Regions from separate parts of the Homo sapiens genome. Here region 2 is linked to region 1. Evidence: fine-mapped expression QTL. A gene starts in region 1. The other region holds a variant in brackets. All regions are shown on one strand. Distances are from middle to middle. Region 1 holds the start of ZNF354C (zinc finger protein 354C). Region 2 holds the start of GRM6 (glutamate metabotropic receptor 6).

The links. PIP is the estimated chance that this variant, and not a neighbour inherited with it, causes the effect. A credible set is the group of variants that fine-mapping cannot tell apart.
Region 2: its variant is the best candidate, but not a certain one, in a credible set for the expression of ZNF354C in vagina (GTEx, PIP 0.51).

Annotation. Positions count from the first base shown.
Region 1 is chr5:179,051,054-179,067,359 of GRCh38, reverse strand. ZNF354C (zinc finger protein 354C) reads right to left here and starts at 6,987. Exons shown (of 5, transcript NM_014594.3): 1 at 6,694-6,987; 2 at 5,265-5,345. The coding sequence starts at 5,291. RefSeq lists an enhancer at 6,133-6,668.
Region 2 is chr5:178,990,339-179,006,644 of GRCh38, reverse strand. GRM6 (glutamate metabotropic receptor 6) reads left to right here and starts at 11,325. Exons shown (of 11, transcript NM_000843.4): 1 at 11,325-11,369; 2 at 11,685-12,204; 3 at 14,562-14,778; 4 at 15,086-15,221; 5 at 15,899-16,053. The coding sequence starts at 11,701. It also overlaps the pseudogene LOC100288803. The variant G/A (reference allele first, on the strand shown) is at 11,563.

The DNA of each region.
Region 1 (16,306 bases):
GGCTCACTGGATGCTCACTTTTGGAGCCTAGTCGCCATGTTGTAAGCCCAAGTCACAAGGAGAGATTATGGGTAGATGCTCCATCCAATAGCCCTATCTGTGATCACAGCAATGAGCCAACAGCAAGCATCAACTACCTGACATGTGAACGACTGAGGCTTCAAACGATTCTATAGCCTTTAGTCTTTAAATCTCTCAGCTGAGACACCCGACTTTGTGTGGTAAGCTGTTTCTCTCACACACCTGCATTCCTAACCCAGAGAAACTGTGAGAAATGATAAATGATTACTGTCATTTCATATTCCAAATCTTCTTACTATATAGCATGTATATCCTTCCATGTTAAAAATACAATTCTACTTGATCATTTAAAATTACAATGTAATTGGGATGCCATAAGGAGAAGAAAGAGAGAACAGAGCAGAGTGAATATCCAAAGTAATAATGGCTGAGAATTTTCCAAAATTAGCAGCACATCTCAAACCTCAAATCCAGAAAAGTCAGAGAAGGCCAAGCAGGATGACTACCAAAATATCTACACCTAGGCATATTATATGAAAACTGCAGAACACCAAAGTCAAAGGGAAAATCTTGAAAGAAGACAGGGAAAAAGATCTTACCTATAGAGAACAAGGATAAGAATGACAGTGGATTTTCCCATTAGCAACATGTAAACAAGAAGAGAGTGAAACAAAATATTTAAATTGTTGAGGGAAAAAATCACCAATGTAGAATTCAATATCCAGGGAAATTATCCTTCAAAAAGGATGAGAAGTAAAGCTCTCTCAGACAAACAAAAACTGAGGGAATTCATTACCAGCAGTCCTGCCTTGCAAGTAATAGTAAAAGAAGTTCTTCATGGGGAAGGAAAATAAAATAGGTCAGAAACTTGAATCTACCTGAAGACAGGAGGGAAGATAGAGAAGGAACAAATGATGATAACATTTTTCTTACTCTTGATTTAGAAGATAACTATTTGCTTAAATTAATAATAGTAACAGTGTATTGGGTGGTGATAGCATATGGATGAGTGAAATGAATGGCAGCAATGCCGTAAGGAAGAGGGGAATACTCTGTTATAAGACACCTCCACTACCCATGGTGCAGTATGTTATTTGAAGGTGGACTTCGATTAGTTGTAAATTTATATTGAAAACTATAGGGTAACCACTAAAAAAAAGTTTTTAAAGCATAATTGATATGTACAGACAGCAGAAAGATCCATGGTTGCCATACTGATATAAATGAATGTTTGAATAAATAAATAAATGGAGAGAAGCAACAATCCTCCATACAGATTTCCAAATAATGTATGTTGATTCTTCACCTCTAGGAGTGGTGCCTGTCTTGCCAGGCCGTAAGTGTGGGCTACACAGTGTCGTCTTTCGAAGGAATACAGTATGGGAAGGCAGAAAAAGAAAGTAACTGTAGAGTGGAGAGACTTGACAAACAGTGCCTCAGTCAGGTGATGAAGGTGAACAGCAACAGGGATGTCATGTTATTAGTATGCAATTGTAGTATGCTGTGATCAGACTGACGCTTCATCTCTGTGACCTTCCTCCCCAAAACCCAACCCCAGGCTAATAATGAGAAAAAACATCACGCAAATCACAATGGAGGGGCATTCTACAGAATACCTAATCAGGGCCGGGCATGGGGGCTCCTGCCTGTAATCCCAACATTTAGGGAGGCCAGGCAGGCGGATCACTTGAGGCCAAGAGTTCGAGACCAGCCCAGCCAACATGGTGAAACCCCGTTTTTATCAAAAATTCAAAAATTAGCAGGGCGTGATGGCACATGTCTGTAATCCCAGCTACTTGGAGGCTGAGGCAGGAGAATCACTTGAACCCAGGAGGCAGAGGTTGCAGTGAGCCAAGATCGCATCATTGCACTCCAGCCTGGGTGACAGAGTGAGACTCCACCTCAAAAAAAACAAAAAAACAAAAACAAAAACAAAAAACAACCTAACCCAGTACTCCTCAAAACTATTATGATCATTACATACAAGGAAAGTCTGAGAAAGCCCCAAAGCCACAGCAGCCTAAGAAGATGTGAAACTGAATGTCATGTGGAATCCTGGGGGGCCCTGGCACACAAAAAGGACAGCAGGTAAAAACTAAGGAAATGTGAATAAAGCATGGACTTCAGTTAATAATAACATACCAATGGTGGCTCGTTAATTGTAACAAATATACCAAATTAATGTAGGGAATAACGGGAAGCTGGGTGCAGGGTATGATAACTGTGTAATTATTCTCTCGTCTAAAATTGTTGTAAAAAAAATAAAGATTATTCTTTTTAAAAATACTGACAATATCAAAAAAGTACTTATTTACTGCAGAAAAATATGTAATTAACAAATTATGACTATTAAGCAATCAATACCAAATTCCATGTGCCTTTTCCCCAGACAATAAATTATATATTACATGGAAATATGTAATATTGCAAAGAACCTATTTTTTTCCAAAAAATATGCTTGTTTGCAGTTTTCCTAACAAGTAGAGAGAAATTTCTCCCTCGGTACCCTTAATGAGGACAGAATGTGATATTGGATATCACCATTGCACTGACTTAAATGGGGTAATGAGACCTGTGATTGGGACACTCTGGGTCCCCAGGAGACTTAATCAAAAGGGTTACATAGGCCGGGCGCGGTGGCTCACACCTGTAATCCCAGCACTTTGGGAGGCCAAGGCAGGTGGATCACGAGGTCAGGAGATGGAGACCATCCTGGCTAACATGGTGAAACCCCGTCTCTACAAAAAAAAAAAAAATTAGCCAGTGTGGTGGTGGGCGCCTGTAGTCCCAGCTACTCGGGAGGCTGAGGCAGGAGAATGGCGTGAACCCGGGAGGCGGAGCTTGCAGTGAACCGAGATGGCGCCACTGCACTCCAGCCTGGGCGACTGAGCAAGACTCTGTCTCCAAAAAAAAAGGGGGGTTACATATTGGCCGGGCACAGTTGCTCACACCTATAATCCAGCACTTTGGGAAGCCAAGGCAGGAGGATCGCAGGAGCCCAAGAGTTCCTTCCAGCCTGCAGTGAGCCGAGATCGCACCACTGTACTCCAGCCTGGGCGACAGAGCAAAACTCTGTCTCTAAAAAAAAGCAACAACAACAACAACAAAAACCCACAAAAGGATTAGATATTGAATCAGCTGTCACCCCTTCCAAAAACAACAACAACAAAAACTGGCTCTGAGTTGCAAACAAACCTACCTCTGCCCTTGGCTAAAATGAAGTAAGTCTCTCCTGCTGTGGATGTAGGCGAGCTCAGATAGCGAACAACCCTACCTTTGGGCAGCAGATAGCCCAGGTAATAGCTGGATATTCCTGTGCACTGCATTTTGCTGGTCTTTACGTCTTGGTTTCCTGAAATATCCATCTGCTTCTAATTAAGGAATCAGGCCTAGTGAGGCGAAGCACACCAAATCTGGCAGGTCCTAAAATAGTGCTGCTGCTGCTGTTACTGATACTGATCATAGTAACAGCTGGAATTTATGGAGGTCTTAATACGTGCCATGCACTTCTCTCAGCATTTTAAATGTACTTTTTCAGAGCATGATGCTAACAGTATAGACTGTCTTGTTGGGATCAAAAGCCAGCTGTGTGACCTTGATCAAGTTACTTGCTTCTCTGTGCCTGTCTCCTCATCTGTACAATCCAGATATTAACAGTCCTCTTGTAAGGATTAAATGACTTACTATATGAAAGGAATAGATATTTTTATACATAGTAATACATAGAACCTGGCTCACAGCAAATATGCTTGTAATTACTACTTTTTGGGGTTCTTTTTGAGACAAGGTCTCACTCTCGTGCCCAGGCTGGAGTGCAGTGGCACAATCATAGCTCACTTGCAGCCTCGAATTCCTGGGCTCAAGTGATCCTCCTACCTCAGCCTTCTTAGTATCTGGGACTATAGGTGCTGCTGCACCCAGCTACTTTATTTTTAATTTTGTATAGTGACAAGGCCTCACTATGTTGCTCAGGTTGGTCTCAAACTTCTGGGCTCAAGCAATCCTTCTGTCTTGGCCTCCCAAAAGTGCTGGGATTATAGGCGTGAGCTACTGTGCCCAGCTACTACTGTTACTAATGCTCATAGCAACTCAGTCATGTATGTATATTATTAACCCCACCAAAATTGAGGAAATGGGGTACAGAGAGATAAAATAACTTGCTCAGGGCTACATCCCTAGCTTGGATTTGAAGCCATGAAGTCAAGCTCCTGAGTCCACATTTCCAGCCTATGGGCTATTGGAAAAGGAGTCAATGAAGAATAGGCTTTGGAGTATGGCAGAAAAAATGCACAGAAGGGAGGGGACTAGAGGAAAGGGAGCTGGTGTTGAAGGAAAGATGGGACTTCCACGTCGGAATGACAGACAGGAATGCTAGGAAAAAGGTCAGGCCTGAGGACAGATTTGGGGAAGATACTCAGAACGCTGAGGGTTAAAGTAATGAAAATGGATCTTAAATGGGGAAAGAACAAGAAAAAAGAGCCCAGGTAGAGAGGCTAAACTAGCAGAGAAAAAAGAAAAGAATCAGAGAAGGAAATAGAGGAATCAATCAGACAGGTGAGATGGACATTTGGACAGCTTAACATCCCCGCTGCACTGGGAGGGGAAGGCCCCAGGCCTGCCTCCTTCTGGGCTTCAAAGCCCAAACCACGCTGAACTCCTTCTGGGATGCCCTTAGTCTTCTCTAAGCACCAATATCAGTCCTGGCCTCCAGTATAAACTCAGAATGCCCCCACTTCTGGGATATTTCCCCTGAACATTTAATCATGTTTCCTAAGATCGATACCACGAACTCCCAGAAGATGGAAATGACAGCTTTCCTCTTTCCATCCCGTGTGCTGCACAGGATCCTGTACATAGGGCTCAATAAATGCTTGTGGAGGCTGTCTTCCGGCCCTTCCACATCTTAGCCCCAAGTGTGACTATATCCTCTATGAAGACAGAGACTGCTTCATGCCCCATTCTCCCCACCCAGCACCAGTGTAGTGGGAAGCATATGCTCAGAACTGCCTCAAATGTGGATCACAGAGTGAGCGGGGTGAATTAAGAGTAGTCTCGGGACAAAAGAGGCACATTCCTCAGCAGCCCCTTGCTAAGCCCAAGACACTGGGAAAAACTTTTGAGGTTCCGGATTCTTCATCGTTTTGGTTGGACCAAAAAGTACCTGGACAAAGTCTGGAAACATGTCTACCATCTCTGAATCCAGAAGCCAACTGATGAAAAAGACAACCTTCACTCACTCTCACCTGAGCAGACAGCAGATCCACAGCCATCCCTTCCTCCTCAGTCTTCCTGCCCAGGGAGAGCAGAGTGTGGACACGGTGGGTCTGCAGAGGAAAAAGGTGTCAAGAGGAACCCTGGCGTCAGGAGATGGCTTGGAGAGAGGAAGTTACAACCGCCCATAATGTCCATCAGGTCTCAAAAAAGCCACCCCCCGTAATGATGTAAAGCAAGAAGAGTGTTTACTAGTTTACTAGGGCAATGTGCCAACCCTACTTCTATTTCTGCACTTGGACTCTTTAACTTCCACCTTCGGGCCTCTCAGCTACCTCTAGGCAAACCGTGACTCCCCCATGGATGTCTGGAGTCCTTCGCTAGCTTTGAACTGCACACCTAAAAGTCGCAATGAATATCCAGTCTCCTGGGGCGCCACTTCCCAGCCTAGCTAGCTGATCCTCATCCTGCCTGCCCTGCCTCACCCTTTCCTCCCTATGGTAGCCACGATAAAGAGGCTTCCCCGCATCCCTACCCTGGTGACAGACCCCACTGCTCGCCCTGAGTGGTCCTTCCGTGGAGTGCTGTGTTCTCCCCAAGAAACTGTGAGCATAATCCAACCACTCAGCTTTCCCAGCCTCTTTACTAGATCTTCGTCGGGCCTTACCACACTTTACCCAAGGTAACAGGATTAAGGCACTGTCCCCACCCAAAGCCAGAGCTTTGCTGTCCCTCCTAATACTCCACAGGTGCCGCCTCTAATGGCACCCACAACCAGAAACAGCCGTCGCTGCCCAAACACCAACCCCAGGTGGGAGAGGTGGAAACCGTGCCCGCCCCACAGAAAGCAAGGGAAGAGGCTGCCTGGGGCAGCCGGGCAAGTGTGAGGGCCTCCAGGCCCGCGATCTGCAGCGGCGACTCAGGGTGCCCCCTAGCATGGAGCCAACCTGGGGCTCTGCCAGGCCAGTTCCAGCGGGTGCCTCGACCAGCCCAGGGGAAGCTGCCACACAAGGCCTCGGTTACGCGACGAAGCGCACCTCCTCCCAGGAAGCGGTGAGTGTTTTCCACGCAGTATTTTCAATCTTCACATTTACAGATGTTACGGAGACTGAAAACCAGGAGGTCGTGACCTGCCCAAAGTCATAAGGGCCGGGAAGGCAATCCTGATCCTAGCCCCAGGCCCCAGTTACATCTGGGGCAATGACCTCGCCACTCTGCCTCGGTCTCCTCCTGACAGAGCGGGAACAGCGTACCGCCACCCTATCTGTTAGCAGGGATGCGCGGAGTTCGTTCGGGCGATGCGCTAGTCTGGTGCCTGGCACCCGAGCGCTCTCGGCGGGCATCAGCTATTGCTTTTATTATTTCCGTTACTCAGAAGAAAATGCACAGAAGAAAATCGCAGAATGAACAACGACAAAAGGCTGGCATCCCCACCCCAGCGGCCCGGCGCACCCAGCTCACCTGGCGAGGCGCTCCCTCCCGCGGGTCTCCGGCAGTCCAGGCCGCTCGCGGACGGCGCCCCGGGACCCAGTGGCCAAGGGGCCCGAGCCGCGTAGGGCTGGTCCCAGAAGCCCAGACGAGGCTGCACGCCGCCCACTCGCTGGAGAGGCCCGGATCCACCCCGGCCCGGAAGAGACCACTGCGAGCGCCTCAACCCCAGGCCGGCAATCCTAGCCAAGCCTGGATGGCCCAAGCCAGGAGAACCCCCGAAAGGCCGCGAGCTGTCCCCGAAACCCCGCCAACCGCGGGAGAACTACCACTCCCGGCATGCCTCCGGCCCCACGCCGACTACACTTCCCAGGGGACGCCGCGGTGCGCGCTGCGAACTCCGGGAGAGGAACCGCCTCCGCCAACGAGAGCTCTCAAAGGCGACAGTGCGCGGAGGGGCTGCAGTGCGAGGGAGTACGCACGCCGCACACGAGGCAGGAGGTCTCCAGCTGCTGGCCGTGCTGCCTACAGCCCGCGCACTTGTTAAGCAAGCGGAGTAGTTTGAAAAAACAAAACCGGAAATTAGATTCATTTAGGAGGATCAGTGTGCTGTAGCTCCCACCGCTGGTTGTGATTACTTTTCTGTTGATACAAAATAATTTACATAATGTATAGGGTCCATGTGAGTGCTTGTTACGTGCATAGACTGTAATGATCATCAAGTCACAGTATTTGGGGTATCCATCACCTTAAGCATTTATCATTTTTATGCGTTGGTATCATTTCAAGCCCTCTCTTCGATTTACTTTGAAATATACACAATATTATTGCCAAGTATAGTCACCCTAGTCTGCTATTAAATATTAGAAATTATTTCTTCCATCTAACTGTATGTTTGTACCCATAACCAACCTCTCTTCATTCCCCTTCCTTTCTGGCCTTCCTGGCCTTTGGTATCTATCCTCCTGTTGTCTATGTCCATGAGATCAAGTGTTTTAACTCCCGAATATAAGTGAGAACATGCAGTACTTGTCTTTCTGTGCCTGGCTTATTTCACTTAACATAATGACCTTCGGCTCCATCCATGTTGCTGTGAATACATTATTTCATTCATTTTTATGGCAGAATAGTATTCCATTGTGTCTATGTATGACATTTTCTTTACCCATTCATCTATTGCTGGTAGGTTGAGTCTATATCTTGGCTACTGCAAATAGTGCAGTGACAAACGTGAGTGCAGGTATCCTTTTCATATACTGATTTCTCTCCCTTTACCAGTAGTAGGGTTGCTGGATTGTATGGTAGTTCCATTTTTAGTTTTTTGAGAAACCTCCACACTGTTTTCCATAGTGGCTGTACTAATTTACATTCCCACCAATAGTGTATAAGAGTTCCCTTTTCCCCAAATCCTCACTGGCATCTGTCATTTTTTTGTCTTTATAATAATAATCATTCTAACTGGAGTGAGCTTATATCTAATTAGAAAGTGTTAGTAACCAAAAGAGCATGATATTTGTATAAAAATAGACACACACACCCCCCCATGGAACAGAATAAGAGAACCCAGAAATCAGTGCACCCATTTACAGCCAACTGATTTTCAACAAAGGTGCCAAGAACACACAATGAGGAAAGGACTACGTCTTTAATAAATGGTTCTGGGGAAAACTGGATAATAATATGCAGAAGAATGAACTTGGACCCCTTCTCTCTCAACATATATAAAAGTCAACTCCAGATAGATTAAAGATTTAAAGACTCCAAACTATAAAACTGATAGAAGGAAACATCGGGACAACTCTTCAGGACATTGATCTAGGCAAAGATTTTTCTTTTTCTTGCCTGTGCTTTTGAGGTCTGTGGCTAAGACCTCAAAAGCACAGGCAACAAAAAGAAAAATAAACAACTATATTAATCTAAAAAGTGTCTGCACAGCAAAAGAAACAACAGAGTGAAGCAACAACTTGAGAGAAAATATTTATAAATTACTCATCCAACAAAGGACTAATACCCAGTATATACAAAGAATTCAAATAACAGGTTTGTGACCAGCCAGGCCAATGTGGCGAAACCCCGTCTCTACTAAAAATGCAAAAATAGCCAGGCGTGGTGGTGCATGCCTGAAACCCCAGCTACTTGGGAGGCTGAAGCAGGAGAATTCCTTGAACCTGGGAGGTGGAGGTTGCAGTGAGCTCAGATCATGCCACTGCACTCCAGCCTGGGTGACAGAGCGAGATGCCATCTCAAAGAAAAAACAAAACAAAAAAAACCACAACAGTATACAAAGAGTCCCATTAAAAATGGGCAAAGGGCTGGGCACAATGACTCATGCCTGTAATCCCGGCACTTTGGGAGGCGGAAGTGGATGGATCACTCGTGCCCAGGGGTTCCAGAGCAGCCTCAGCAACATAGTGAGACCTTGTCTTTACAAAAAATAAACGAAATTAGCCAGGCATGCCAGTGCAGGCCTGTAGTCCCAGCTACTCAGGAGGCTGAGCGCAGAGGATTGCTTGAACCCAGAGGTTGAGGCTGCAGTGAGCAAAAATAGCACCACTGCACTCCAGCCAGGGTGACAGAGTGAGACCCTGCCTCAAAAAAAAAAAAAAAAAAAAAAATAGGCAAAGGACCTGAATAGACATTTCTCAAAAAGACATTCAAATGGCCAACAGGTATATGAAAAATGTTCAACATTACTAATCATCAGAGAAATGCAAATCAAAACCACAAGATAGTTATGTTATTTTAAATTCTTTTAATGTGTACCATACACAGGAGATAATGTATTCATAGGCACAGATTTTTGTTTTTATTTATTTATTTATTTATTTATTTTGAGATGGAGTCTCACTCTGTCGCCAGGCTGGAGTACAGTGGCGCGACCTTGGCTCACTGCAACCTCTACCTCCTAGGTTCAAGCAGTCTCCTGCCTCAGCCTCCTGAGTAGCTGGGACTACAGGCACGTACCACCATGCCCAGCTAATTTTTGTATTTTTAGTAGAGATGGGGTTTCACCATGTTGATCAGGATGGTCTTGATCTCTTGACCTCGTGATCTGCCCACCTCAGCCTCCCAAAGTGCTGGGATTAGAGGCATGAGCCACTGTGCGAGGCCCATGGTTTAATAATAATAAAACAAATACCCACATACCCAACACTTGGGTTACCAAAGAGAAATTTACCCAAAATTTGGAAGCCTTGTTCACAGTGCTCCCAAGTCATTTTCCTGAGTTGCTTTCAGCATTCCTTTGTTTTGTTTGATAATTACTCCACATGCATGTGTCCCTAAACATTGTTTACTTTTGCAACATTTTAAATCTTTATAAAAAGACAACCTGCTATATACATACAATATACAATATGTATGTATATAAAGGTAATCTGCTATATACATACAATATACAATTGTATAGTTTCAATTGTACATTGTATTCAACTTTTATACAATATACAATATGTATGTATATAGCAGATACCCTTTATATAAAGATTTCTGCATATATATGTGTATATGCCTATATGTGTATATATGTATATATATCATGTGTATATACATGCATATATGTATCATGTGTATATATGTGTTCAACACAAACACTTTTAGATTAGTCTACCTTGATACATGCAAAGTTCATTCCTTTTCATTACTGTATAGGATTTCATTATTGATTCATTCAGCAACAACAAAAATTATGTTGAACACTTATCCTGTGCCTAGCATTGTGCCAGATTCTGGAAATACACCAGTGGGCAAAACTGGCAAAACCTGTGCACAAATGCAGCTTGAATTTTACTGGAAGAGAGAGAGGAAAGATAATAAGAGGAATAAATACGTTTTGAGATAGAGATGAGTGTGAAGGCAACCAAAATAATTCACTCCAAAACATACTTCCCTGACATATCTTGAGATGGCTATTCAGAGAGCTTGCAGACAGGAATAGTCCTGAAAAGCTGTCTTTTGTAGAGGAGACTTGCATCTGTTGAGGAAATGAAGTGCAGTCAACAACAGATGTGAATAGGCTTTCTCTGAGGCTCTCCCCTCGTCCAGATCTGAGAAAGACTAACTGAGAGTCTGACACCTTTGAAAATCTGGTGCAAACTTTAACCACGGGCTACCATTTGCTCTTAGGCTGCTACCTGTGCAGCTTCATTTGCATAATGAGTCTACCTTTTCTTCAGGTCTTTCCTCTTCTCTCCCTCCTATAACCCGCCTTAGCCGTGATCCAAGCCCCTGTTCTTCCTGTAACTTCAAGATGGTATAAAAATATCAACTACCTTGCCTTTCTTTGAGTTTTTGTATGTTGTATCACTCCTGTGCTTGTATGAACTTTAATAAAATTTGTATGCCTTTTTTTCCTATTCAGCTATGTATCATTTTGTTTTATAGACTCAAATTATCGAAACTTCAGGGGAAAAATTTAAACTTCCCTGTAAGTGCAAACAAGAATTTAAAAAGGGAACAGGAACATGGAGGGTGGGAGAGTTTGCAATTTTACACAAAGTGGTTAAGAAACATTTCATTGAGAGGGTGACATTTGAAGAAAGACCTGCAGAAGATGAGGGATGGGCCAATTTAAGTATCTGTGGGAAGTCTTTCTGGCAGAATGAAAAGCGGATTCGAATACCCTGAGGTGGGAGCATGCCTGGCTTGTTGAAGGAACAATAAGGACACTGTTGCTGAAGCAGAAAGAAAAGGGAGAGAACAGTAGGAGATCCTAGGCAAGGGGGCAGAACGTGGAGGTTCTTAATGGGTTCTGTGTCAGTGGATTTCACTCTGAACGAGACGAGAATGCGCTGAGTAGCGGAGAGTGATAAGACTACCTCCTTGACCAAACTTTAGTCAGGCCGTTCTGAGCCCTCGTTTTCACTAGGCATTGACCTTGGCCCTCATTCTGTCCTGCCCAGCCCAGTCTTTGCAAAGAGTCTTGATAAGTCAGTTTAGCAAGAATCCCCCAACTCTTGACATCTGATCATTCTTACTATCTGACAGAGTTTCTCATCCCCCACCTTTGCTGTGTTAGCAAGAATGCTGTAAAGCCAGCTGAGCAAGAATTCCCTTGCCCCGATGGCTCTGAAACCACCCTCGCAGGGTTAGTGAGAATTTCAAGCCAGAGTTTAGGGAGAATTACAGTTAGACATTGAGCAGGGTGCAGTGGTGCCCTTTGACCCACTTCCCTGAAGCTCTAACTAACCAAGAGTCCTGTAGTGTGCCGACCACCTGCTCCCCCATTGCTCCTATAGGCAGAATCTCTGACACTGGATCTTCTAACCCAAGAATTGCTTAAGGTGTTTTCCAGATCCTGAATTCCAGCAGGATGGCTGACGCCAGTGGGTCTGAAGATCCCCGCCAGGGAACCGACTAAACACAGGAATGCAGTTTCTTCCTCTCCCTGTCCCATGACTTGACCCCTTACTTTTCAACCAATCATCAATCCCCACACTTTAGCCCTTCACACAGCCAGATCCCTTAAAAACCCCATCCCCAAACCTCTCGGGGAGGCAGATTTGAGGTTTCCTCCCAACTCCTCATTTGGCTGCCCTACAATTATTAAACTCTCTGCTGCGACTTCCACTTTTGGTGCATTGGTCTGCTGTAACGTCTCCTCTGTAAGGAAGGCGAATGCCAGGCCAGACAGAACGCTAATTTGCTGACTGCAGCAATTAGAGGGATCCCCCACAAAGGGCAGGGAAAGGGGGGTTCCGGGAGGAATGCCCAGTCCAATTGCTCGCGTCTGCAGCGTAACCAATGTGCCTACTGTAAAGAAATAGGACCTTGGAAAGATAAGTGTCCACAACTGAAGGAGAAGCAAGGTGATGCGGAGCAAAAGACCACAGATAAAGACCAAGGGACTTTGTGCAATCTGGCCGAAGGGCTGCTAGACTGAAGGAGACTGGGCTCAAATGCCCCCAAGGAGCCCATGGTCAGGATGACAATAGGGGGCAAGGACATTAAGTTTTTGGTCGATACCGGTGCCACTCAGTAGTAACCACCCCAGTGACCCCCTTATCTAAGAAAACCATTGATATAATCGGAGCAACGGGAGTCTCCGCCAAGCAGGTTTTCTGCCTACCGTGGACCTGCTCGGTGGGAGGACACAAAGTGACTCATCAATTTCTGTAAATGCCTGACTGCCCTTTGCCTTTGTTAGGGAGAGACTTGCTTAGTAAGCTGAGAGCCACCCTTTACAAAACAGGGCTCCTTACAGGCTGAAGTTACCAGGAACAGGAGTTACCATGGTCCTTACAGTCCGCCGAGAAGAAGAATGGAGACTTTTTCTAACTGAGCCAGGTCAGGAGATAAAACCGGCTCTAGCTAAGAGTGTGGGCAGAGGACAATCCTCCGGGCTGGCGATCAGTCAAGCCCCTGTACTCATAGAAATTAAGCCTGGGGCCCAGCCAATTAGACAAAAGCAGTATCTGGTTCCCAGAGAAGCTCTTGAAGGAATACAGGTTCACCTTAAACGCTTGAAAGATTTTGGAATTATAGTTCCTTGCCAGTATCCATGGAACACCCCCCTCCTACCTGTCCCCAAGCCAGGGACCAAGGACTATCGACCTGTACAGGACTTACGCTTGGTTAACCAAGCTACAGTGACTCTGCACCCAACAGCTCCTAACCCTTACACACTGTTAGGATTGCTGCTGGCTGAGGACAGCTGGTTCACTTGTCTGGACTTGAAGGATGCCTTCTTTAGCATCAGGCTAGCTCCTGAGAGCCAAAAGCTGTTTGCCTTTCAGTGGGAAGATCCGGGGTCAGGTGTCACTACTTAGTACACTTGGACTCGGCTTCCCCAGGGGTTTAAAAACTCCCCCACCATCTTCGGGGAGGCGTTGGCTCGAGACCTCCAGAAGTTTCCTGCTAAAGACCTAGGCTGCATCTTGCTCCAGTACGTGGACGACCTTCTGCTAGGAGACTCCATGGCAGATGGGTGTGCAAAAGGGACGGATGCCCTGCTTTGACACCTGGAGGACTGTGGGTATAAGGTGTCCAAGAAGAAAGCTCAGATCTGCAGACAGCAGGTACGCTACCTGGGATTCACTATCCGGAAAGGGGAGCGCAGCCTGGGGTCAGGAAGAAAGCAGGTCACCTGCAGCTTACCGGAACCTAAGCTACTGCCTACTGCAGTGGCCAGCCCGGAGGATTGTCCTCTGCCCACACTCTTAGCTAGAGCCAGTTTTATCTCCTGACCTGGCTCAGAAAAAGTCTCCATTCTTCTTCTCGTGGGACTGTAAGGGCCATGATAACTCCTGTTGCCTGTAACTTCAGCCTGCAAAGAGCCCTGTTTTGTAAAGGAAATGGTGGCTCTCAGCTTACTAAGCAAGTCTCCCGCTAAAACCAGAAGGCAAGTAAGGGTATTTCTAGGAGCCGTGGGATTTTGCAGATTATGGATTCCAAACTTTGCGGTGCTAGCCAAACCATTGTATGGGGTTACAAAGGGGGGCGACCAGGAGCCTTCTGAATGGGGACCTCTGCAACAGCAAGCCTTTTGCAAGTTAAAGGAAAAACTTATGTCAGCCCCAGCCTTAGGACTACCAGATTTGACAAAGCCCTTTACACTCTATGTGTCAGAAAGACAAAAAATGGCAGTCAGAGTTTTAACCCAAACTGTGGGGCCCTGGCCAAGACCAGTGGCGTACCTCTCAAAACAGCTAGACGGAGTTTCAAAAGGCTGGCCTCCATGTCTGAGAGCCCTGGCAGCTACAGCCCTGTTAGCACAAGAAGCAGACAAGCTAACCCTTGGGCAAAACTTAAGTATAAAGGCCCCCCCCATGCAGTGGTAACTTTAATGAATACCAAAGGACATGATTGGTTAACAAATGCTAGATTAACCAAGTACCAAAGCTTGTTATGTGAAAACCCCCACATAACCACTGACGTCTGTAACACTCCGAATCCTGCCACCTTACTCCCAGCATCAGACAGCCCTGTCGAACATGACTGTGTGGAAGTGTTGGACTCAGTCTATTCTAGCAGGCCCGATCTTCGAGACCAGCCATGGGCATCAGTGGACTGGGAGTTATACGTGGACGGGAGCAGCTTCATCAATCCGCAAGGAGAAAGATGCGCAGGATGTGCGGTGGTGACCTTGGATGATGTTATTGAAGACAAACCGTTGCCTCACGGCACTTCAGCCCAGAAGGCAGAGCTCATTGCTTTAACCCGGGCTCTAGAACTCCGTGAAGGTAAGACTGTGAACATTTATCCTGACTCTCGATATGCCTTTCTAACCCTCCAAGTGCACGGAGCATTATATAAAGAAAAAGCCCTGTTAAATTCCGGGGGAAAGGACATAAAATATCAACAAGAAATTCTGCAATTATTAGAGGCAGTATGGAAACCCCAAAAGGTAGCAGTCATGCATTGCAGGGGACACCTGCAAGCTTCCACCTCAGTAAGCCAAGGAAACTCCCGAACAGACACAGAGGCACAAAAAGCAGCATCTACTCTTTACCAGGCATCAGTCACAGCCCCTCTACTCCCTCAAACACCTGATCTGGTGCCTACTTATTCTAAAAAGGGAAAAGACGTTCTTCAGGCAAAGGGAGGACAAACAATAAAAGAAGAATGGATAAAGTCACCAGATGGGAGAATAGCTGTGCCACAGCTGCTAGGAGCCGCAGTTGTGCTGGCTGTACATGAAACTACCCATTTAGGCCAGGAGTCACTTGAAAAGCTGTTAAGCCGGTATTTCTACATCTCACACTTGCCAGCTCTTGCTAAAACAGTAGCGCGGCGATGCACAATGCAAAGCAAGGTCCCCTGTTCCTCCCGGCACACAAGCCTGTGGAGCAGCTCCCTTTGAAGATCTTCAAGTGGACTTCACAGAGATGCCCAAATGCGGAGGTAACAAGTATTTACTGTTCTAGTGTGTACTTACTCTGGGTGGATAGAGTCTTATCCAACACGAACTGAAAAAGCTTGTGAAGTAACCCGTGTGCTTCTTCGAGATCTCATCCCTAGGTTTGGACTGCCTCTACGAATCGGCTCAGATAATGGGCCGGCATCTGTGGCTGACTTAGTACAGAGGACGGCAAAGGTATTAGGAATCACTTGGAAGCTACATGCCACCTACCAACCTCAGAGTTCCCGAAAGGTGGAGGGAATGAATTGGACTATCAAAAATAGTTTAGGGAAAGTATGTCAAGAGACAGGATTAAAATGGATATAGGCCCTTCCTATGGTATTGTTTAAAATTAGGTGCACCCCCTCTAAGAAAACAGGATACTCCCTTTATGAAATATTATATCATAGGCCTCCTCCTATACTGCGAGGACTTCCGGGTACTCCCCAAGAGTTGGGTGAAACTGAACTGCAGCGATAGCTACAGGCCCTAGGGAAGATTACCCAGACAATCTCAACTTGGGTAAATGAGAGGTGCCCGGTCAGCTTACTCTCCCCAGTTCACCCTTTTTCTCCAGGTGACCATGTGTGGATCAAGGACTGGAACGTAGCTCCTTCACGGCCACGGTGGAAAGGAACGCAGATCGTTATCCTGACCACTCCCACAGCTGTAAAGGTGGACAGAATCCCGGCCTGGGTTCACCACAGCCACGTAAAAAAATCCCGCAGCCCCTGAAACCTGGAGGGCCAAACCAAGCCTGGACAATCCCTGTAAAGTGACCCTGAGGAGGACGACAAGCCCTGCTCC
Region 2 (16,306 bases), 61 kb after region 1:
AAAGTGGCTAGGCTCCATAATCACACAAGCCAATTCCTCAAAACAAACCTCTCTCTCTCTCTCTCCCTCTCTCTCTCTCTCTCTCTCTCTGTGTGTGTGTGTGTGTGTGTGTGTGTGTAAGAGTTCTGTTCAAATTATAAATGTTAGACCCTTATCAGATGTATAGAATGTATCAAATGTTTAAAAATATTTTCTACTGTTCTCTGGTTTCCTTTTTTAGTTTCTTGATAGTTTTCTTTGATGGCAAAAGTTTTACATTTTGTTTTTAATTTACTTTGTTTAATTAAAAGTTTCCAATTTATTATTTCTTGGAGTGTTTGTGCTTTTCATACCATATCTAAGAGATTGTTGTCTAATCCAAGGGAATAATGATTTACATCTATGTTTTATTCTAAGAGTTTCATAGTTTTAAATCTTACATTGAAGTCTTTGAACCATTTTGATTAAATTTTGTGTATGATGTGAGGAAAGAGTCCAGATTCATATTTTTGCATGTATATCCAGTTATCCCAACACCGTTTGTTAAGAGACCATTTTCTTCCACATTAAATGGTTTCACCACCCTTGTCAAAAATCAATTGGCTGTAGATTTTGATTCCTTCCTTGAAAATCAATTGACTATAAATATGTTAGAATATATTTTTGGACTCCTAATTTTATTCCATTGATCTAGATATCCTTACGCTTATACCACACTGTTTTGGTCAGGGCCCCTTGCAATTCCATATATATGTGAGGATTGGCTTTGCCATTTCTGAAAAATATTAAATCTTCCAATCCATGAACACAGGGTATCTTTCTATTTATTTTAAGTTTTCTTTCATTTAATTCAGCCTTACTTTATAGTTACTAGTGCCCAAGTCTCTCACTGTCTTGGTGAAATTTATTGCTAAGTATTTTATTATTTTGAATACTGCTGTGAAAGGAATTTGTTTTTAATTTACTTTTGAGCTTAATTTAATTTATTTAATTTACTTTAATTTACTTAATTTAATTTTTATTTACTTTTGAGCTTATTGCTGATGTATAGAAATATATCTTATTTTCATATATGGGTCCCATACACTGCAAATTTGATGAATTAATTTATTAAGTATAGTAGGGTTTTTTTTGTACATTCTGTGTGATTTTTCCAAATAAAGGATCATTCATCTCTGAATAGAGAGTTTTACTTCTTCTTTTCCAGTATACATGGCTTTTATTTCTTTTTCCTGCCTAGTTGCTCTGGATAGAACTTCTGGTACAATGTTGAATAGCAGTGGTGAAAGTGGGCATTCTTGTGTTGCTCCTGATTTTAGGGGGAAAGCTTTCATCTTTTACCATTGAGTATGTTAGCCATGAGTTTTTCATAAATTCCCTTTACTGTGTTGAATGAGTCCCTTTTTTATTCCTAGTTTTCTGAGTGTTTTTATTCTAGAAGTATGTTCAATTTTTAAAAAGTGCTTTTCCTGCATTGATTGAGATTGATTGAGATGCTCGTGTGGCTTTTTTCCTTCATTCTACTAATGTGGTGAGTTATAGTGATTGATTTTCATATGTTGAACCACCTTTGCATTTCTGAGATTAATCTCGCATGCTCGTGGTGCATAATCCTTTTTACATGCTGCTGGATTCAGTTTTCTAGTATTATGTTGATGATTTTTTGCATCTATATTCGTAAGTGATAGTGGTCTATAGCTTACTTGTATATCTTTGTCCGGCTTGGTACCAGGTTAATGCGGGCCTCATATATAGAATGGTTGAGGAAGTGTTCTCTCTTCTTTTGTTGTTGTTGTTCTGTTTTTTTTTGTTTGTTTTTTTGTTTTTTTTTTTTTTTGAAGAGTTTGAGAAGGATGGATGTTAACTGTTTGCTAGAACTCACCCAGTGAAAGAAAGATTTTTCCTTTCTGGGAGATTTTTGATTGCTGGTAACAATATAAGTCTGTTAAGATTTTCTTTTTTTTTTTTTTTTTTTTTGAGACGGAGTCTTGCTCTGTCACCCAGGCTGGAGTGCAGCGGCGCGATCTAAGCTCACTGCAAGCTCCGCCTCCCAGGTTCACACCATTCTCCTGCCTCAGCCTCCCAAGTAGCTGGGACTACAGGCGCCCACCACTACGCCCGGCTAATTTTTTATATTTTTAGCAGAGATGGGGTTTCACTGGGTTAGCCAGGATGGTCTCGATCTCCTGACCTCGTGATCTGCTCGCCTCAGCCTCCCAGAGTGCTGGGATTACAGGCATGAGCCACTGCGCCTGGCCAGGTCTGTTAAGATTTTCTATTTTCTTCTTGAGTCAGTATTGGTAGTTTGTGTGTTCCCAGGAATGTGTTCACTTCATCTAGGTTATCTAATTTGTTAGCACACAATTGTTTGTAGTATTTTCTTATAACTATTTTTATCCCTCTAAGGTCAGTAACAATGTCCCCACTTTTATTTCTAACTTTTAGCACTGGGGGAGCACTGAATTAGGTAAAATAAAGACACCTTTCAAGTAGGGTCTTCCAGTGAACCATCACATGGGTCTGACAGGGGCAACTTTGCAGCCTTATGTTTTAGGGGAGTCTCATAAGCAACATTAAACTGGATTTTGTTTCACAAAAACTTGAAATTTTTGTCTCTTAAACTGAAACATTTAGCAGAATTACATTTATTTGAGTTACGAAGATACTTCAACTTAGTTCTCACATCTTACTTTTTGTTTTCTAATTGTCATACTTTTTTATGTTTTAAAATATTTAAATTGTGAAAAGTAACACATAAATTTAAAAAAAATGCAAGACCATGAATGTTCAGTGTAATAGAAGAGTGTAAATAAAACACCCACATAGGTGGGGCGCAGTGGCTCAGGCCTGTAATCCCAGCACTTTGGGAGGCCGAGGCAGGCGGATCACGAGGTCAGGAGATCGAGACCATCCTGGCTAACATGGTGAAACCCCGTGTCTACTAAAAATACAAAAAAATTAGCCAGGCGTGGTGGTGGGTGCCTGTAGTCCCAGCTACTCGGGAGGCTGAGGCAGGAGAATGACGTGAACTCGGGAGGCGGTGCTTGCAGTGAGGCGAGATCGCGCCACTGCACTCCAGCCTGGGCGACAGAGCAAGACTCCGTCTCAAAAAAATAAATAAATAAAATAAAATAAAATAAAATAAAAAACACCTGCATAATCCCTCACAACCCACAAGTGCTCTCACAAGTCACCTCCCAGTCATGATCCTTCTTTGCATTTCTTTGTGCTTTTACTACGGAAGTGTGCATCTCTACATACTGTGATTTACTTTGCCTGTTTATGGATATTATGAAAAATGGAATTACAGTATGCGTGTTCAATTATATGGACGATTAATCTGTGCTATTACTTGTCATTTTGGCTCACTCCTTTTTCTATATAATATTCCATTTCAGTGCATGGAATACCACAAGTTATTTATTCATTTTACAATGTACCTTTCATTTGTTCCATTTTTTTCTCTAATAAATAACAGTACCTTGAATGTTCATATGCATATATCTGTGCATTCATTTCTCTAGGGAATATACCTACAAATATAATTGCTGAGACCTAGGGCATGTGTATCTTCGACTTTAGTAAATAATTCAAGACTGTGTTCTTGCAAATTGCACCAATTTACCCTCCCACTGGCAGTGCATGAGGATTCCTATGTTTCATCACCCTTAACACAGGGAATTTTGAATCTCTTCAATTTTAGCCTTTCTGCTGGATAGTTCATTGTGGTTTAAATCTACATTTCCCTAATTTTAACAAGGCTAAATTTTTTCATATTGTTATAGATATTTTGATACCCTTTTTTGTGAACTGACTGCTCAAATCTTTTGCCCATTTTTCTAATGTGTAATTTTTGTTTTTATGATTGATTCATAGAAGTTCAGTCTGCATGCTGTAGCCTAGTGCTTTGTTGGTTATATGAGTTATAAATATCTTCTCCCACTTGGTGGCTTGCCTTTTCCCTCTCTTTATGGAGTCTTTTCCTCTTGTTTTGTTTTCTAGAAAAATAGTGTTATGAACTCTTATAAACCTATCATCTAGCTTTGATCATTATCAACATTTCATCCTTATCCTTATGCTGTCTGTAAGAGAGTTCTTAATTTTAAGGTTGTCAAATGTATAGTTCCTTTCTTTTATGATTAGTTTTTTTGTGTGTTCAGTTTAAGATATCTTTCCCTAAGGTCATGAAATACTCTCACCTACAATCTTTGACCTATTTATTGGTTTGTGATATGGTTTGCCTCTGTTCCCCATGCAAATCTCATGTTGAAATGTGATCCCGAGTATTGGAGGTGGGGCCGGGTGGGAGGTGACTGGATCATGGGGGCAGACTTGCCCGTTGCTGTTCTCATGATAGCGAGCGAGCTCTCACAAGGTCTGGTTGTTTAAAAATGTGTAGCACTTCCCCCTTCTCTCTACTCCTCTTGCTCTGGCCATGTGAAGACACGCGTGCTTCTCCTTCCCCTTCTGCCATGATTTTAAGTTTCCTGAGGTCTCCTCAACCGTGTTTCCTGTAGAGCATGTGGAATTGTGAGTCAATTAAAACTTTTTTCTTCATAAATTACCTAATCTCAGGTAGTTCTTTATAGCAGTGTGAGAACAGACTAATACAGTTTGCATTTCCCATTTAGGTAAATAATGCATCTGAATTGATTTTGGTGTGTGGAATGAGGTAGGGGTATAGTTCCTTTTATTTTCATAGGGGCACCTAATTTTCCCACTTCATTGATTGAAAAGACTGTCTTTTATCCACAACTCTGTAGTGTCATCATTCCCAGGCTTTTTCTCTTGGGGGGTGTGTGTGTGTGTGTGTGTGTGTGTGTGTGTGTGTGTGTGTTGCTGTGGCCTCCAGCTGGCCCTCCAGAGCCCTGTCTCAGGCTTAGTGGTCGCGGTCGTTGGGGATCCTGAGCTAAGCCAATGCTGATCATGAGAATCCCAGTCACACAACTGCCAAGTGGCTTCCATCCCTGGCCGAGCCCGCGAGGCTGACTCTGGTCACACAGCTGCCGAGTGGCTTCCATCCCTGGCCGAGCCCGCGAGGCTGACTCTGGTCACACAGCTGCCGAGTGGCTTCCATCCCTGGCCGAGCCCGCGAGGCTGACTCTGGTCACACAGCTGCCGAGTGGCTTCCATCCCTGGCCGAGCCCGCGAGGCTGACTCTAGCTATTGCCTGTGATGGTGTCTGTGCCACAGGGGCAGAGGTCAAAAGTTATGACAGAGGGGCAAAGCCAAACATGTTTACTCACTGGTTTTCTATTGGTGCTGTAACAAGTTACCACAAACTCAGTTCATGACAACAACGCAAATTGATTCTCTCACAGTCTGAAACCAGTTTCAGGGGATGGAAATCAGGGTGTCAGCAGGACTGCCCCCATCCAGGTGCTCTCGGGGAGATCCACTTCCTTGCCTTTCCCAGGTGTCAGAGGGGCATTCCTTGGCCCTTTCTGCATCTTCAAAGGCTACATTTAGCATTGTTGCATCACTCCCTGCTGCCATCTTCATGGCACCTTCTCTTATTCCTGAGGGCCCTACGATTACATGGGGCCCACGTGACAATTCAGGATCTCACAACCTTAATCTGATCACGTCTATAAAGTCCCCTTTGCTATATAAGGCAGCACTCACAGGTTCTGGGAATTAGAACTTCGACAGAAGCAAGGGTATTATTCAGCCTACACATGTCCCTTTAGGAAAAAGTTTTCTTGGCTAGGCATGGTGGCTTGTGCCTGCAATCTCAGCACTTTGGGAGGCTGAGGTGGAAGGATTGCTTGAGCCTAGGAGGTGGAAGCTGCAGTGAGCCATGATTGGGCCACTGTACTCCAGTCTGGGTGACAGAGCGAAACCCTGTCAAAAAAAAAAAAGCCCCGAAAAAGTCAAAAAGAAAAAGTTTTCTGAGCCATGTTCTGAGTAGATGTTCACTGTAGATCTGGGATGACTTCTCGGAGATATATTCTATGGCCTTGTTGTATAGTACTTTGATTTCTCTAATTTTGAAGAAAATTTGTGTTCTGGTTAAAGATCTTCCTGTTTAAAAACAAAACAATATCCCCTAACTAATGGGTTCCTTAAAATGAAGTTTCTCAAATATATTTCATGTTTGAAATCCCTCATTGCCCTGTGGAAAGGCAGCTTAAATAAAACACAGCCTTTATAAACCAGTGTCTGGTGCATTGTGCACTTAAACATTTCTGTTTCAAAACGGAGGCAGTTCCTCCATTATCAAAACTGTGAGCCCAAGAGTTGGTGTTCACGTTGAACTTCAAGCCAATGCCAATGCCAAGCAATAAAAACCACATGGACTGGTATCATGAAAATGATGAATTCTAAACCCCAATATGATGCGTTCAATTCCTTTGGAAAGCTGTTTGGGCCTTTTACTTAGGCTAAGATTCAGATTTGATCAAATTACTTTATGATTTTCCTTTTGAAAATACTCCCTCTCGGCCAGGCGTGGTGGCTCACGCCTGTAATCCCAGCACTTTGGAAGGCAGAGGCAGGCGGATCATGAGGTCAGAAGATCGAGACCATCCTGGCTAACACGGTGAAACCCCATCTCTACTAAAAATACAAAAAATTAGCCAGGTGTGGTGGCGGGTGGCTGTAGTCCCAGCTACTCTGGAGGCTGAGGCAGGAGAATGGCGTGAACCCGGGAGGCGGAGCTTGCAGTGAGCAGAGATCGCACCACTGCACTCCAGCCCGGGCGACAGAGCGAGACTTCCTCTCAAAAAAAGAAAATACTCCCTCTTCATTTATATAATGTCACAAACAGGCAAAACTGTACCACGGGTTATTTAGGGATAGACACTTATTTTATTATGGATTCCAAATTAACCTACACTTCATGCATTTCGTTGTTGTTGTTGTTAGTTTTGAGACAGAGTCTCGCTCTGTCACCCGGGCTGCAGTGCAGTGGTGTGATCTTGGCTCACTGCAACCTCCGCCTTCTGGGTTCAAGTGATTCTCCTGCCTCAGCCTCCCAAGTAGCTGGGATTACAGGCACGCACCACCGCGCCCGGCCCACTTGCATTTCTATGCCACACTCATAAGCGGATCATGAGGTCAGAAGATCGAGACCATCCTGGCTAACACGGTGAAACCCCATCTCTACTAAAAATACAAAAAATTAGCCAGGTGTGGTGGCGGGTGGCTGTAATCCCAGCTACTCAGGAAGCTGAGGCAGGAGAATCATTTGAACCGGAGAGGCGGAGGTTGCATCACTGCACTCCAGCCTGGGCGACAGAGCGAGACTCTGTCTCAAAAAAAAAAAAAAAAAAAAAAAAGATACGGACACTGAGGCTAAATAAAGGTACAGAGACTTGCTCAAGGTCACCTTGATAAAAAGTGACCAGGCCAAGATTTAGACCTGGGCTCTGTAGCCCTGAGTGTGCACTGAACCACCCCCCTATAGTCCCACTGGGTGCCCTTTGCTCTTTCCCCTGGATGCCTCAGGCCCAGTCAGAGGGTCTATGGAGGGAGTTATGTCCCCAAATTCTTACGCGGAAGCCCTACTGGCAATATCAGTGCTGTAAGAGTGGACGGAGCTGTAACAGGGGATGAGGTTAGATGAGGTCGCGAGGGTGGAGCCCGAATCCGATAGGCCTGGTGGCCTCATGAGCAGAGGACAAGAGGACTCTCCCTCCTCCTGCACACACCAAGAAAAGGCCACATGAGGACGCAAGGAGAAGAGGATGGTCTGCAAGCCAGGGAGAGGCCCGCCCCAGAACCCACCACGATGGCACCCTGATCTCAGACGCCCAGCCTCCAGAGCAGTGGGAAGACAAATCTCTGTTCTTTAACCCTCTGTCTGTGGGGCTTTGTTATGGCCGCCCAGCTGAGGAAAACAGCCACAGGGTCTGCAAAGCTATGGGGTGTGACCACAGGGCAGTGCGTTTGTGGCATCCAGACCCACACTTGTGCCGTGGTGAAGTTCAATGAACAGAAGCTTGTGACAGACTCCTTTGACGACACTGTGGCTTGCTGGGAATGGAGTTCCGGAGCCAGGATCCGGCACTTTCGCGGGCACACGCGGGCAGTGTTTAGCGTGGACTACAATGATACCTTGGTGAGCGGCTCTGCGGCCTTCACTGTGAAAGGATGGACTTTATCTACTGGGGCATGCCTGAGCACACTCACTGGGCACACGCCATGGGTCACCAAGGTAGTTCTGCAGAAGTGCAAAGTCAAGTCTCTCTTGCACACAGTCCTGAAGGATACCTCCTCTTAAGTGCAGACAAATATGAGATTAAGATTTGGCCAACTGGGACAGAAATCAACTGCAAGTGCTTAAAGACATCCTCTTGTCTCTGAGGTTAGAAGTATCCGCCTGCAGCCAAGACTTCGTGTTGATGGCAAATACACTGTTTGTAGTTCAGCCCTCCGTCTCTAGCAGCGGGACTTTGCCAACAGTTATGATATTCTCAGGGTCATCAAGACTCCTGAGATAGCAAACTTGGCCTTGCTTGGCTTTGGAAATACTGTTGCCCTACTGTTTGGCAGCTGCCACCTGTACATCATGGACTTGCAGACCCAGAGCCTCATTAATCGCTGGCCTCTTCCAGAGTACAAGAAATCAAAGAGAGGCTCAAGCTTCCTGGCAGGCGAAGCATCCTGGCTGAATGGAGCAGATGGGCACAATGACACGGGCTTGGCCTTTGCCACCAGTATTCCTGACCACAGTATTCACCTGGTGTGGAAGGAACACAGCTGACACCATGAGCCCCCACCACCGACTGACTATGGGTGCTAGGGCGGGGGTTTTGGGGTGCAACCTCTATGCCAGCTGACTGCATGAACCAAAGTTCTCACCTATGGTATCATCACGCAGTGCACGTCATTTATCTGTTTGCCAGGGGGCCAGGGCTTGGGGTGGGGGAGGGCTTGTTTTACTGACACACATGTAGCATGCTAACGGGGTACATCATGGACTTCATTTGTACTCAGTTAGGTTGGTGAGTGTAAAAGGATCCATTCTGGTTCATCTTTCTTGAGTGGAATATTGGTTTTATATAAAGAAAGTTAAATGATTTGTTAATCTGCTGATTGGTTGCGTATGAAATCACATTGTCTGTTATTAAAGCTTTTCACCATAAAAAAAAAAAAATCTCTGTTCTTTGACTGTCTGTGTGGAACTCTGCCATAGCAGCCCAGCTGAGGAAAACAGTCCCAGGGTCAGGGAACAGCAGGACTTCTTCTTGGGGCAACCTTTTAAATGACGTCCTGTGCATTTTGTACAAATTCTGTGCTACCTCATCGAGCCTGAGCAGCTGTATCAGGATGCTGTAAGAGGGCCCTATGGCCTGTGCGAGGTGCACTTTGGCCTTCTGCCCCTGCACGGGGCTGAATAAATTATGCTGAATGTTCCCTCCTTCCTCAATCCTTGTTTCTGGGCCCCTCTGGTGCCTACGCTCCTGCTTCTCCTCTAACTCCTCGGCCACCCCCTCCCAGTCTCCTTACTTCTGCTCAGACCTGCATGTTGGGGTTCCTGGGGCTCCAGCCTCACTGTCTGTCCACACTCTCAGCCCCAGGGAACTCCTGCGTCCCACGGCTTTAAACGCCTCCGTGGCGATCCCACCTCAGCTTTCTCTCCCGCCCTGGCCTCTTCCCTCAGTTCCAGGCTCATGAACCACGAAGCCTCCACTTTCCTGCCCAAACCCGAACTCTTGGCTTCTGCCCTCCTTGACCTGCTCAGCTGTGTCTCTGGTCCTCATATTCTCAGGGAATGCCCCAGCAGCTATGCCATCCTCCACCCCTCCAAGAGCCAAATCTCCATCAGGTCTAAAATCCTGCCACCCCCCTCCCCTTCTCCTCCAGCCCCCTGCTCACAGGTGTGCATGCCTCCCTCCTACACGGCGAGGACCCCCTGCCAGTCCCCCAGCTGCTGCCCCCGCTTCCTGATGGTCTGTCCTCCAGACAGGGGCAGTGGCTGCCTTGGTCATGCCAAGCAGGAGGCTGCTGTGTGCTGGGAGCTGTCAGGCTCGTCCTGAACAGGGAAGGGCCCATCCACCTCCCAAACCCAGTTTATGCAGTCCTTCGCAATGTCAGGCTCAGGGCCTGGCACCAGCCAAGCTCCCCACCCTTCCCACTGTTAAAATGGATAGGAGCAGGGCTAGGCCCAGCCTGTTGACTCTGGGCTTCCACCAGGAGAAGTGGTTCTGGCAGTAGAAACTATCGGGGCCTGGGAGAGGCGGGGGAAGAGAGAAAGGTGGCATGTTTCTTGCTTGCTCCCTCTACCAGCCTTGTCCAAATCCCCGCAGCCACCCTAATCCAGCCTGTCTAATGGAGCCCAAGCCGGCTCAGGCCCTCGGACGAGGAGCCTGCTAATCCCTGTGGCTAGGAGCTCACCACCTGTCTCCAGGACGCCCTTTGCTCTCTTGGCATCAGAGAGCCAAATCCTGGGCCTCGGATGGGGGGATGATAAAAGCATCTTTTGGCCAAGCCCCCTCACCTTGGCCTCCACGATGAGATGGGGAGTTAGGTGCAGAGAGCGTTGGCACAGTGAGCACCGCAGCTCGAGTGGCTGCCTCAGACCCAGAGCCCGAGGAGACTTTATACGGAGCCAGAACGACCCCGCGGGGTTCCATCCTCCCAAGCAATAGGCGGGAGTGGGAGCTGCGAGGAAAGCCGGCCCCTCCCCTCCCTCCATCCAAGGCAGTGTGGGCTGTTTGTTTCATGCCATTCTGGGTGTGAATCCTGATGCCCACACATGCCAGCTGCATGCACTTGGGCAACTCAACTCACTCCTCGAGGGCTGTTTCTCGACTGCAGGGTGTTGTAAGTTCGCTAATACTAAAGGCTTCTCCCTCCTGGCCCCTTCCTGCCCCTCGCTCTTCCTCCTCTTCCTTAGGCCCTCCCAGCTCAGGCAGCCCCTGCCCCCTGCAGGGTTCTGCAAGGAGAAAGCTGGGGAATACCTTAGGCAACTGCAGTCAGGAGCACTGGTGGCCAGGACAGAGACAGAGAGACAGAAAAGGGGTCAGGGACAGAGAGAGATAACCGCAGGGAGAGACAGGAAGGGACAGAGACAGAAAAGATTTCCAAGAAGAGGACAGAGGCAGAAAGCCAGGGACAGAGACTGAGAAACAGAGACCTAGAGGCAGAAGAAGACTGAGATAGAGATGGACAGAGATTGTGTCAGACACAGCCCCAGAGACAGCCAGACAGTCTGAGTCAGACGCAAACCAAAGACAAGAAAACAGGAAAACAGACCCAGAGATTGGGAGAGGGAGGGGAAGGAGATGCGGGGAGAGCCAGCACCGCCACCCCCCACACTCAGGAGGGGTCTCCACCCTCGGAGCGGTCTCTCATCCCTCCCTAGAATCCTTAAATCCTCTCTCGCTCAGGGCCTCGGCCGCATCTGTCACAGACTTGTCCTGAACCGACAGCGGCTGGCGCAGGTGACTGGCTTGGGGCGGGAGCCTGGGTGTGCGCTGGGGATGGACCCCGAGGAAGAGGGGCCAAGCTGTCGGGAAGCGGCAGGGCTGGAGGGGTGGAGGCAGTGGTCGGGCGGGACCCCGGGCGACAGGGTTCGGCGCTTGTAAGAGCGAGACGGAGGCCCGGGCAGGCCGGCTGAGCTAACTCCCCAGAGCC[G/A]AAGTGGAAGGCGCGCCCCGAGCGCCTTCTCCCCAGGACCCCGGTGTCCCTCCCCGCGCCCCGAGCCCGCGCTCTCCTTCCCCCGCCCTCAGAGCGCTCCCCGCCCCTCTGTCTCCCCGCAGCCCGCTAGACGAGCCGATGGCGCGGCCCCGGAGAGCCCGGGAGCCGCTGCTCGTGGCGCTGCTGCCGCTGGCGTGGCTGGCGCAGGCGGGCCTGGCGCGCGCGGCGGGCTCTGTGCGCCTGGCGGGCGGCCTGACGCTGGGCGGCCTGTTCCCGGTGCACGCGCGGGGCGCGGCGGGCCGGGCGTGCGGGCAGCTGAAGAAGGAGCAGGGCGTGCACCGGCTGGAGGCCATGCTGTACGCGCTGGACCGCGTCAACGCCGACCCCGAGCTGCTGCCCGGCGTGCGCCTGGGCGCGCGGCTGCTGGACACCTGCTCGCGGGACACCTACGCGCTGGAGCAGGCGCTGAGCTTCGTGCAGGCGCTGATCCGCGGCCGCGGCGACGGCGACGAGGTGGGCGTGCGCTGCCCGGGAGGCGTCCCTCCGCTGCGCCCCGCGCCCCCCGAGCGCGTCGTGGCCGTCGTGGGCGCCTCGGCCAGCTCCGTCTCCATCATGGTCGCCAACGTGCTGCGCCTGTTTGCGGTGAGGGCCGCGGGGCCGGGCTCGGTGTCCAGCGTCCCTCTCCCGTCCTCGCCCTGGGGTGGCCCAAGTCTCCTTCCTTTACTTCTTCTGAAAGAGTCTCCGTTTTAATCACTCGAATTCACACAGCGTCAAAGAAGCCCTGTCAGTTGAGCCCGACGCAGGCCTGAATCGGCTCCACCCAAACACTCCAGCCGCCCATGTCTACCCCGCCCCGCGAGGGCGCCCCTTCCCGGGCGGGTGCCACCTACGCCTCTGGCCGGTTGGCTGGGGAGGGCGGCCTGACTTCAGCCCCCATTTGCCAGCCTGCTCGGGTGCCCTTGTTCTGGGCACACCCCTGCAACCATACAAGGTGCTCCTGCCCCCTGGGCCTGCGGAGCGCTCGAGTGATATTGCAACTTTGAGTTTTGTTTGGAACCCGGGCCCTTCTTCCAGAGCAGCAACTGGGGCGTGTCCCTGGGCTGCTATGGGGGATGGATAGGCCTGAAAGGTCTGGTCTTTCTCTTTTTTGATCATTTAAATTTATTTTCAAAATGCCTTGAACTCTCCCTCAAGGGGCATCTGAGAGCAGGGCGGGGCGTTCCCTTCTGAGCTCTGGTCTCCTGCACCCTGCCCTGCGCAGGTGCCCGGGCTGGCCCTGCTCTGTCCTCAAATGTAGGGAACTGTCCCGTGAGGGGCAGCGTGTTCCTTGCAGTCCTAGGGGCCAGCAGAATCGGGATTAGGAGGGCTTTGGCATACAAGTTTGGGGGTTTTCGATTTGGTCATTCACTGGGGGTTGTGGGACAGTTTTTCTGGGGTTCTGTGGCGGGAGGGGCCTGTGTGCATCCGGCTCTCTGTGAAGGAGGAAGGCCTGGCTTCCATCTACCTAGGAGAGGAACTTCTGTTTCCTGAGAGCTTCTCCGACTCCCGGGCGCAGCGTCTGTGTTTGTTCCAGGCGTGCGGGGCCGCTCCCTATCGTCTGCGCACATGAAAGCCCCCATCCCTGTTTCCTCGGATTGGCAGTGTTGATGTGACATCTCCACGCTGGCACCAGACAGGCTGTGCGGCCGCCCAGGGGTTTTTCACCCACCTGTATGTGTCCCCGGCCCTGCCTAGAGCTCTAGTTTCTGTCTCTGTCCTCTAGGTCGAATGCAGAGATTCCAGACCCCAAGGCCTTCAGGGGCCCAGTTGGGGACTCAGGTGGGCAGGACTCTGTGAGCCCAGGGCCCGCTGCTGCCAGCTCAGCCCAGATTGAGGTTGTGCTGCCCGGCTAGAAATGCAAACATTAATAAAAACTGTGCAAAACACAGCCACAGGCAAGATGCTGCAATTCCTGGTCTAAAAGAACTACATTCATTTCCCAGCCACATGACCGTGCTGGCAGGCATTTTAAATTAACTTCCCTCAGGAGGTCCAGGGGGCATGGGAGGGTTGTTCCCAAACTCAAGTGTCCAGGAGAGCTGGGAGGACCACAGCATTATTCACTGAGCTGTGGCCACTGGGCCTTTCTCGTCTCTCGGTCTCCTCAGTTGTTTCTCTCTCTCTCTCTCCCTCTCTCCTTCTTGTTTCTCTCCAGCCCCACCTTCCCTCTTTCTTTCTCTCTCCCTGCCACTCCCGGCTTCCTTTTCATGCTGTCTCTATACTTTCTATCCTGCTTCAAACAACCCTGGACCAGCCCCCCTCCCTCCTTCCAGAAACTCCCCCTCTCTGGCCTTCACACCAGCTCCTGCTATAGCCCCTCTTGCGCTGGAGCCCCATAGCCCCCTCTTGGCGGCCTTCTCAGCCCCGTGTCTCTGCCTCCACACTCCCCGGTCAGTTCAGCCTCTGGTCTCTGCTGTTAATCACTCTAATGCATGCAGAGAAACCCAGTTTCCAACAATCCCCATCCTAGGCCAGACACAGCTTTAAATGGAACATCCCCTGCTGCTCCCCTGTCTGCCCTAATCCCTCCTAGGGCTGCCTGTCCCTGCGGACCACCCCTTGGTGTGAATCAAGAAAACGTGCTTTGCCCTGGGCCTGACTAGGACAGGCAGATGCAGCTGGATGGGCTGCAGGCCCTCTGCTGGGGGTCCTTGTTCAGGACACAGCTTGTACCAGTATATGTGGCGGTCCTGCCCTCTCCCCAGCCCTGCATACCTCCCACCTGCACAGCATTCACGGAATTCTCAGGCCCACTCGCAAAACACCACAGCTTCCAGCCTTTCCAGGTGGCTGCTCCAGCTGGCCCCAGGTCCCCACCCCAACCCTTCCATCTCCCATCTGTGTCCCAGGTCCATGCCACACACCTTCTGTGCCCCGTCCGTGTCCTGGGCCCCCCTTACCCTCCCTCTCTTGAGTTACTGACCTCCATCCACAGCCCAGCTGTCCTTCCTGCCCCACAGATACCCCAGATCAGCTATGCCTCCACAGCCCCGGAGCTCAGCGACTCCACACGCTATGACTTCTTCTCCCGGGTGGTGCCACCCGACTCCTACCAGGCGCAGGCCATGGTGGACATCGTGAGGGCACTGGGATGGAACTATGTGTCCACGCTGGCCTCCGAGGGCAACTATGGCGAAAGTGGGGTTGAGGCCTTCGTTCAGATCTCCCGAGAGGCTGGTGAGCTGGGGGCTCCGAGGCACCAAGGAGTCTACATAGTGTGGGCCCGGGGCCCTCAGTTGGGGCAGAAGCAGAAAGATGGGGGGCCCAGGTCCATGCTGGGCCGAGGTTGCCTGGCTGGTGCTCCATGTGGGCGGGACCTCTTTGTTTTGGACGACTCAGCCCTGCCTCAGGCTTGGCGGAGGGTGCAGGCCAGACTTCACCCCTGCAGACCCTTCAGCCAGCCTACACAGTCCTCTGCAGCGGTGGCCAGGTGGGTGTGTGGGTGGGTGGGACGGAAGCTGACTCTGGCACCCCCAACGCCCAGGGGGGGTCTGTATTGCCCAGTCTATCAAGATTCCCAGGGAACCAAAGCCAGGAGAGTTCAGCAAGGTGATCAGGAGACTCATGGAGACGCCCAACGCCCGGGGCATCATCATCTTTGCCAATGAGGATGACATCAGGTGGGACAGTGGCACAATCACCGGGCCCCTGGGGCTCTCCCTGAGGGTCCCACCCCTCCTCTTGCACATCGCCACCTTACACACTCTCCCTGCCTCCCTTTCCCCTGCTCCCCGCACCCCCCACCTTCCCTGCTGCTGCCTCTGAGTCTGGTGCCCAGGCTCAGAAGCAGCCTGGTCTGGGGAGATGCCACAAGCCCAGACTGAATAGCGCACAGAACATGTGTCTGTGTTTACAGCTCCTGGGGGTGCGGGGAGGGACCTGTGGGCAGAACCTAGTGCAGAAAATGAGCTGTGAGGGAAGGAGCCCAGGGTCCATACAGAGGCTGCGGACCCCAGCCCGAGACCCACCGGCCCGAGTTCATCTCCAGCCTAGGAGGCTGGGTGTGACGCTGGTGGAGGCATGTGGGGAGGGGCTGGCTTCGAACTGGATTTTCCCCCAAGGAGTCCCTCTGAACCCCCTGAACAGTGGGTTACAGTGGGCAGAGCAAGTGGGCAGGCCTAGGGTCAGAGGAAAGCCCAGGGAAGGTGCCCTAAATGCCCCCGGCCCCGTTTTTCCTGAGAAACAAGGATCTGGTGAGTGATTATAGAGCAGGGGAGATGGATAGAGTGGGAAGGGATGGGGGCCGAGCTGGAGGAGGCTCCCAGGCCCTCCCTCACCCCAGCCCTGCTCCTACCAGGCGGGTCCTGGAGGCAGCTCGCCAGGCCAACCTGACCGGCCACTTCCTGTGGGTCGGCTCAGACAGCTGGGGAGCCAAGACCTCACCCATCTTGAGCCTGGAGGACGTGGCCGTTGGGGCCATCACCATCCTGCCCAAAAGGGCCTCCATCGACGGTGAGTCCAGGGGCACTCCATCCCCCACCCCACACGTCTCCCCAGCACCCCCTCTTGGGGATGCTCATTTTCTGCATCTGTGTAATTGGTGCCATAATCCAGATCCCTTCTCAGATCCCCAGATCCTATGAGTCCGATCATCTGTGGACGCGTCCCTCCAAGCAGCGCTTGACTGGGATGGCGTGCGAGGAAAGCACGCTCCACTCACTGGACGGGGAGGAATTGTTGGGTTTTTGGTTTTGTTTCTTAATTT